Homo sapiens: one gene and its partner. The protein of the gene in region 1 interacts with the protein of each later gene in a biochemical or structural test. Each region holds a gene or a part of one and is shown in the gene's direction. Other genes may lie near its edges.

Evidence for each region. Proteins that work in one complex are often made in the same cells at the same time.
Region 2: the proteins of SPEN (region 1) and RBBP8 form a complex in vitro, tested with the Homo sapiens proteins (one study listed by BioGRID).

Annotation. Positions count from the first base shown.
Region 1 is NC_000001.11:15,875,135-15,878,789, forward strand, and holds part of SPEN (msx2-interacting protein), read left to right. Parts: intron 1-1,067; coding exon 1,068-1,544; intron 1,545-3,655. UniProt on the Homo sapiens protein: May serve as a nuclear matrix platform that organizes and integrates transcriptional responses. In osteoblasts, supports transcription activation: synergizes with RUNX2 to enhance FGFR2-mediated activation of the osteocalcin FGF-responsive element (OCFRE).
Region 2 is NC_000018.10:22,936,309-22,939,963, forward strand, and holds part of RBBP8 (DNA endonuclease RBBP8), read left to right. Parts: intron 1-445; 5' UTR 446-543; coding exon 544-652; intron 653-3,655. UniProt on the Homo sapiens protein: Endonuclease that cooperates with the MRE11-RAD50-NBN (MRN) complex in DNA-end resection, the first step of double-strand break (DSB) repair through the homologous recombination (HR) pathway.

The DNA of each region.
Region 1 (3,655 bases):
TCTACAAAAGTAGAGAACTTACGATTTCTTTATAGGATTATAACTAGTTTTTAATATTAACACATAATTGCATGTGTGTAATCGTACATGCAACGTGTTTTGTACTTTTTAGGTTGACAGGTATTCACATCCTACTAAATGATTGTTTAAGTTAAGCTATTTTGCTAATAGCGACCTTAGAATATCTTATAGTTCCTAATGTTACCTAATTTCATCACAGGCAATTTGAGTATAGCTAAAAGCCAAAAGAACATATTTCCTACAACCATTGAGTTTATACATTAAGAAATTGAATCATGGAATAGGCATTTTTAAAGTCATTTGGAATTTGATAGCACAGGAGTAAATAATTTTTATTTTTATTTAAATTCACATAGAGTAGCATGTGGTAACCCAATATTTTGATACTTGAAGTGGTTTTTTTTTGAGATTCTATTTTTATTATTAAATGTAATTGGGTACCGCTGTGCAGTCTATGTAGTCTAGTTTATGTAGTCCAGTAATTTTTTATAACTATCCAAGCAGTCAAAACTTAATGAAAAAAAGTTAAACTTAGAAAATTTTTTCTGGACTTCTTGAAAGTCCTTCCTATTGTTGAGACATGCGCTGCAGCAGGGCTTTCATGTCTAAGTTAAAACATAGCATGGAAATGTGGCCTAAAAGAAATTTGTGAGTAAATAAAATTTGGTATATACTTTAATCAGATGAAAGTGTAAAAACTTTCATATTATTAAAATAGTCTCTTGTTCCGTTAACATGAAAAGGAGATTGTATATTTATGTATGCAAGTCAGAAAATCTCTAATAAAGTAAGCAAGTGAGCTGCAGAACACTAGTCATGAAAGCCCAATATACAATGAAAACAATGATTGCTCAGCTGTGAAAATAATTTTTGGAGTCAAGTAAAATGTTAAGCTTGTTAGCGTTTGCTTATTAAGTAGGTTAATGCTGTTTAGAAAATGACCAGTTGCAAAGACAAAGACAATGCTGAAGTGAATGTTTGCATGACTTGCTTTTAGTTTTGCTTGCTCCTTTCTGATTAAATATTTTTCCCCCTCCTAAATGCAGGGCTTCAGATAACAGGGAGCGTGCTTATGAACATAGTGCCTATGGACACCATGAACGGGGGACGGGAGGATTTGATCGGACAAGACATTACGATCAGGATTACTATAGAGATCCTCGAGAGCGGACTTTACAACATGGGCTCTATTACGCTTCTCGGAGTCGAAGTCCAAATCGCTTTGATGCTCATGACCCCCGATATGAACCTAGGGCTCGCGAGCAGTTTACACTGCCCAGTGTGGTACACAGGGATATCTACAGGGATGATATTACCCGGGAGGTACGAGGCAGAAGGCCAGAGCGGAATTACCAGCACAGCAGGAGTCGGTCACCACATTCATCCCAGTCTAGAAATCAGTCTCCTCAGAGACTGGCTAGCCAAGCATCTAGACCCACAAGGTCCCCTAGCGGCAGCGGCTCTAGAAGTAGATCCTCCAGTAGTGATTCAATCAGCAGCAGCAGTAGTACCAGCAGTGACAGGTAGGTTAACAGCCTTTTGTTATAACAGATGAGCTAGCTTTAAACAAATTCTCAACAATCAGTGGGAATGGTTTCAGCATAGTATTATTTTTTAAAGTAATCTTGGATCATATATGTATGTAATCAGTAAAGAAACTGGCATGTGGCCATTGAATTAACTGTTCTAAGTACTCGAAGTTAAGTGATGATTTGCAAAGTTCTGTTTCATCCTCCAGATGCACAGTATTAAAATTAAATGATCAAAGTGGAAGGGAGGTGGTGACTCTAGCTGTGCAAGGCAAATCTTGTGACACTGAAAATATGGTATCTCTTTAACATTTTTAATTTTGTAGGTGTATAATACCAATTTATTTCTATTATTTTGATTGAAGATTTGTAAAAGCTGTTTGGTTAAATATGTATTGGTGAAATATAATATTGTTGACACATTTATTATCAATGACTAGATCAACTTATGAACAAATTTTAGCTAATTTTAACATCAGGGTGGTAGCCAATTTATAAACTCAAGTAGAAAAGCTTCCTTTGAATGCAGGTTGTAACTTTACTGTTCTGTAAACTGATCTCACTAGTTGAGAATTTCTTTCTACAAATATATATATATATTTTAAAGACAGTCTCACTGTGTCACCAAGGCTGGAGTGCAGTGGTGTAGCCTTGGCTCACGGCAACCTCTGCCTTCTGGGTTCCAGCAGTCCTCCTGCCTCAGCCTCCCAAGTAGCTGGGATTACAAACGTGCGCAACCACGCCTGGCTAATTTTGTATTTAGTAAAGATGAGGTTTTGCCATGTTGGCCAGGCTGTTCTTGAACTCCTGACCTCAAGTGATTTGCCCACCTCATCCTCCCAAATTGCTGGGATTACAGGCATGAGCCAGAGTGCCCAGCCAAAAAGTTTTATTTGAAAAGCGAAAATAGTAAGTTGAGGGTAATCTTAATAAGAAACTTAGCTTCAAACCTAGTTATATGGATTTTGAAATCACAGATCTGGGTATGTGGTATAGATTATCCTTTAAGTAATCTAGGATAAGTTATTTATGTTCTTCAGGTCTCAGCTTTCCCTTTTTTTTTTTTTTTTTTTTTTTGAGATGGAGTCTCGCTCTTGTCACCTAGGCTGGAGTGCAATGGCGTGATCTTGGCTCACAGCACCCTCCACCTCCTGGGTTCAAGTGAGTCTTCTGCCTCAGCTTCCCATGTAGCTGAGATTACAGGCACCCATCACCATGCCAGGCCAATTTTTGTATTTTTAGTAGAAACGGGGTTTTACCGTGTTGGCCAGGCTGGTCTCTAACTCCTGACCTCAGGTGATTCACCTGCCTTGGCCTCCCAGAGTGTTGGGATTACCAGTGTGAGCTACTGCGCCTGGCCAAGCTTTCTCATTTTTAATAAGGACCTTAATAAAGTTATTGTGAAAATTAAAATGAACACTTAATGTAAAATGCTTACTTTGATACCTAGTATATGTTAAAAAAAATGCTGCTATTCAATTTGTTAATCCCACATGTCCTGCTTTTCAATTTAGGTGGTATATATTTAAAATTTACAGTCAAATTCTTTGACCTGATTAAAAGGCTCAGATTACTTTTCTTTTGCCTGCTTAAAATTAATTTAAGCAAATGGTCATGTAGTTGAATGTCTGTTTTTAGGCTTCCTGAATTTTCTTATTCAAAATAATACATGAAAACATTTTGTTTATCCCTCTGCCTATCTAGATATAATTCAAACATTCTGGAAGATTTGCATATTAAAATGAAACAAGCACCTAGTTTAGAAAGTCATGAAAGTTACGTTCTATGCCCAGCTTTCAAGCCGTGTGACATGGATGAAAACTCTTAACTTCTTTTGATTTTATTTGGTGTGCTGTCTAGATAAATGATTGATGAAATTCATTTGAACCCTATAAACTAATTATAAAATCTTGTTCCACTTTTTTTTCTGCATAGAATTGTCTAAAATGCTCAAGTTTTAGTCATTTTCCATAAACCTACCTCATTAAAAAGCTGCATCTGCATTCCACTGGATCAAAACTTATTGAAAAGGTGTTGAGGCACTGGGCGTGTGGCTCACTCACGCCTGTAATCCCAGCACTTTGGGAGGCTGAGGCAGGTGGATC
Region 2 (3,655 bases), on another chromosome or scaffold:
CCAGGCTGATCTCAAACTCCTGGCCTCAAGTGATCTGCCCACCTCAGCCTCCCAAAGAGCTAGGATTACAGGCAAGAGCCATCTCCCCCAGCCAAAACAATACATTAGTCTATAGTGGTAAATTAATACTGACCATGAATGATAAAAACCCCTCAATATCTGAATCCTTTCTGTTTAATATAATTGAGATAATTTCTTCCTCTAAGAGAAATAAGAAAATTTGCCTGAAAATTTACCTCATATAGCCAAATAACTGAAATCAGAACTTTTCTCACCATTATCATCTTTCCTTATTCTTTCCTTCCCCTCCCAAATTCTAAAAATGATTGATTATAGGTAAATAAGGAAATGGTAAATGAGGATATCTGGGCTTGTGTTTCATCCTGATTTCAAAGTACATAAAGATAAATGCAAAGTTCATTTATGTTGCAATCTGTCATTTCAGGTATTTGACCTGTCCAAAGACGACTTGATACCTCTATAATGTAACAGAAAAGGTCAGAAAATATTAAGCAAGTAGAAGTGTGGAGCATATTAAGCAAGATGAACATCTCGGGAAGCAGCTGTGGAAGCCCTAACTCTGCAGATACATCTAGTGACTTTAAGGACCTTTGGACAAAACTAAAAGAATGTCATGATAGAGAAGTACAAGGTAAAATCTTTTCTTAAATACTTACAGCAGTATTTTGTTGAGACTGTAGTGGCTTTGTATACCTTTGTATGACAGTCCTGTTTATTATTTCTATTTCAGCTTTTAGGTTCCGGGGGTACATGTGCAGATTTGGTACATGGATAGATTGCATGTTGCTGGGGTTTGGTGTGCAAATGATTTCATCACCCAGGTAGTGAGCATGGTACCCCATAGGTAGTTTTTCAATCCCCACCCTCTTCCCACCCCCCTGACCCTCCACCCTCATGTAGGTCCCAGTACCTGTTGTTCCCCTCTTTGTGTCCATGTGTACTAAATGTGTAGCTCCCACTTATAAATGAGAACATGCAGTATTTCTGTTGTCTGCTCAGGGTAATGGCTTCATCTGCATCCATGTTGCTGCAAAGAAAATAATTTTGTTCTTTTTTATGGCTTCATTGTATTCCATGATGTATATATACTTTTTTTTAATTCAGTCCACTGTTGAATTTTGTACATTTAATGGCCATCTTTAAATTCAAAGATATCTTTTTTTTTTTTTTATTTTTTTTGAGACAGGGTCTCACTGTGTCACCAGGCTGGGGTGTAGTGGTGTGATCACAGCTCACTGCAGCTTCAACCTCCCATTCTCAAGTGAGCCTCCCTCCTGTAGTTGGGACCATAGGCACACGCTGCCATGCCTGGCTAATTTTTTATTTTTTGTAGAGTCAGGGTCTCACTATGTTGCCCAGGCTGGTCTTGAACTCCTGGCCTCAAGTGATCCTTCTGTCTCTGCCTCCCAAAGTGGTGGGATTACAGACGTGAGCCACTGCGCCTGGCCCAAAGATCTCATTATTTATTTATTTATTTATATATTCATGTATTTATTTATTTACTAATTAATTTTCAGAGAGGTTCTCACTCCGTTGCCCAGGCTGGAGTGCAGTGGTATGGTCACAGCTCACTGCAGCTTTAACCTCCCAGGCTCAGGTGTTCCTCCCACCTTAGCCTCCTGGGTACCTGGGACTACAGGTGTGCACCACCACGCCCAGCTAATTTTATGTATTTTTTGTAGAGACAGAGTTTTGCCTTTTTGCCCAGGCTGGTCTTGAACTTCTGGGCTCAAGCAGTCCACTGGCCTCAGCCTCCCAAAGTGCTAGGATTACAGGTGTCCGCTGCTGTGCCCAGCTGATCTTTTTTTCTTTTTCTTTTTGAGACAGGGTCTTGCTTTGTCACCCATGCTGGAGTGCAGTGGTGCAAACATGGCTCACTATAGTGTCAAACTCTCGGGCCCAAGTGATTGTCCCACCTCATCCTCCCAAGTAGTTGGGACTACAGGCGCACGCACCATGCCCAGCTAGTTTGTTTTTGTTTTTGTTTTTTTTAAACTTATCCTTCACCTTAGAACACCTAGCTAGTTTTTGTATTTTTTGTGGAGTCAGGGTTTCGCTATGTTGCCCAGGCTGGTCTCAAACTCCTGAGTTCAGGTGATCTCCCGCCTTGGCCTCCCAAACAGCTAGGATTACAGGCGTGAGCTGCGCCCAGCCAGATCTCATTTTTAGAGGACATTTACAATTGTAGTTTTTGTGATTCATTTTTATGGTCAAATTGGTGCTTTTTAACCACAGAACATAGTTTGTATACAACTTGCTGTTATTTACTTGTGGTAATATGTATGAGATAGTGGAAAACGTATACAATTTGTTGACTGAAGACCTGCATTTGAATTCTGATTTCATTTACCCACTTGCTCTGTGATCTTAGCCTAATTACCTAACCTCTAAATTTAATTTTCTTCTATAAAATTCTTTGCAGGATATAGACATAAAAATACTACATAAAGTCATTTGACAAACCCGTAGCACTGAAATACAAAAGTGAATGGCCACTTACCTTCAGACAGCCTGCAGTCTTAGTAGAGTCGTGTAAACAGATAATTACAGTACAGTGAAATAACAGTTAAAAGGTTTTTATGACGTGCAAGGAGTTTTAGAGGATTAAGCAATTGTGGTTGAGATGAGTAAATATTATTTGTGTTAAAAGATACACCATATGAAGCTAAGCTCAAGGTTTTAATATTAAATTTTAATATACTTTAATTCTGTAACTTTCCCTATGTCCCTATGTATGAGAAATGCTTCATATTACATTTGTTTCTTGATTACCTATTATAAGTTTAATATTGCAGTGCTTTATAGCTGTATCATTACACTGGAGTACTATTAAAACATAATCAACCTGAATCTAAAGTGTAGTATGTGAGTCTGTATTAGAACTTTCTTATGGTAGGCTGGGCACGGTGGCTCACGCCTGTAATCCCAGTGCTTTGGGAGGCCAAGGTGGGCGGATCACCTGAGGTCAGGAGTTCGAGACCAGCCTGACCAACATAGAGAAACCCTGTCTCTACTAAAAATACAAAATTAGCCGGGTGTGGTGGTGCGCACCTGTAATCCCCGCTACTCAGGAAGGCTGAGGCAGGAGAATCGCTTGAACCCAGGAGAATCGTTTGAACCCAGGAGGCGGAGGTTGCAGTGAGCTGAGATCACGCTATTGCACTCCACCCTGGGCAACAAGAGCGAAACTCCGTCTCAAAAAAAAAAAGAACTTTCCCATGGTAAGTTTAGTTTCTTGCAAAACTTCTGGTGACACCCTTATTAATTAATGAGTTTTGAAATATGAACAACCCCAAAAGTATTCTTTCAAGCCCCAGTGTTCATGGAGACACAAAGAAATGTTCAAGAAATGTTTTTTGGGCACTTACTATGTGCCAGACCTTGTGAATAAGAATAAATCCTATATAGTGCTAGCTTTAAGGGAATTTCTAGTCTAGAATTTTAATGCAGTATACTATGTTATTATCTGAAAACATGAAGGAAGAACTGAGGGTGTGTGTGGTTGCATGGGGAAGTGGGTTTGTGCATGGTTTATGTCAGACCAGGCTTGATAATTAAGTCTAATTAGCCAGGCAAGGAAGATGGTGGAAGGGGAGGGAATTTTCTGAGTAGAGAGAATAGCACATGCAAAAGT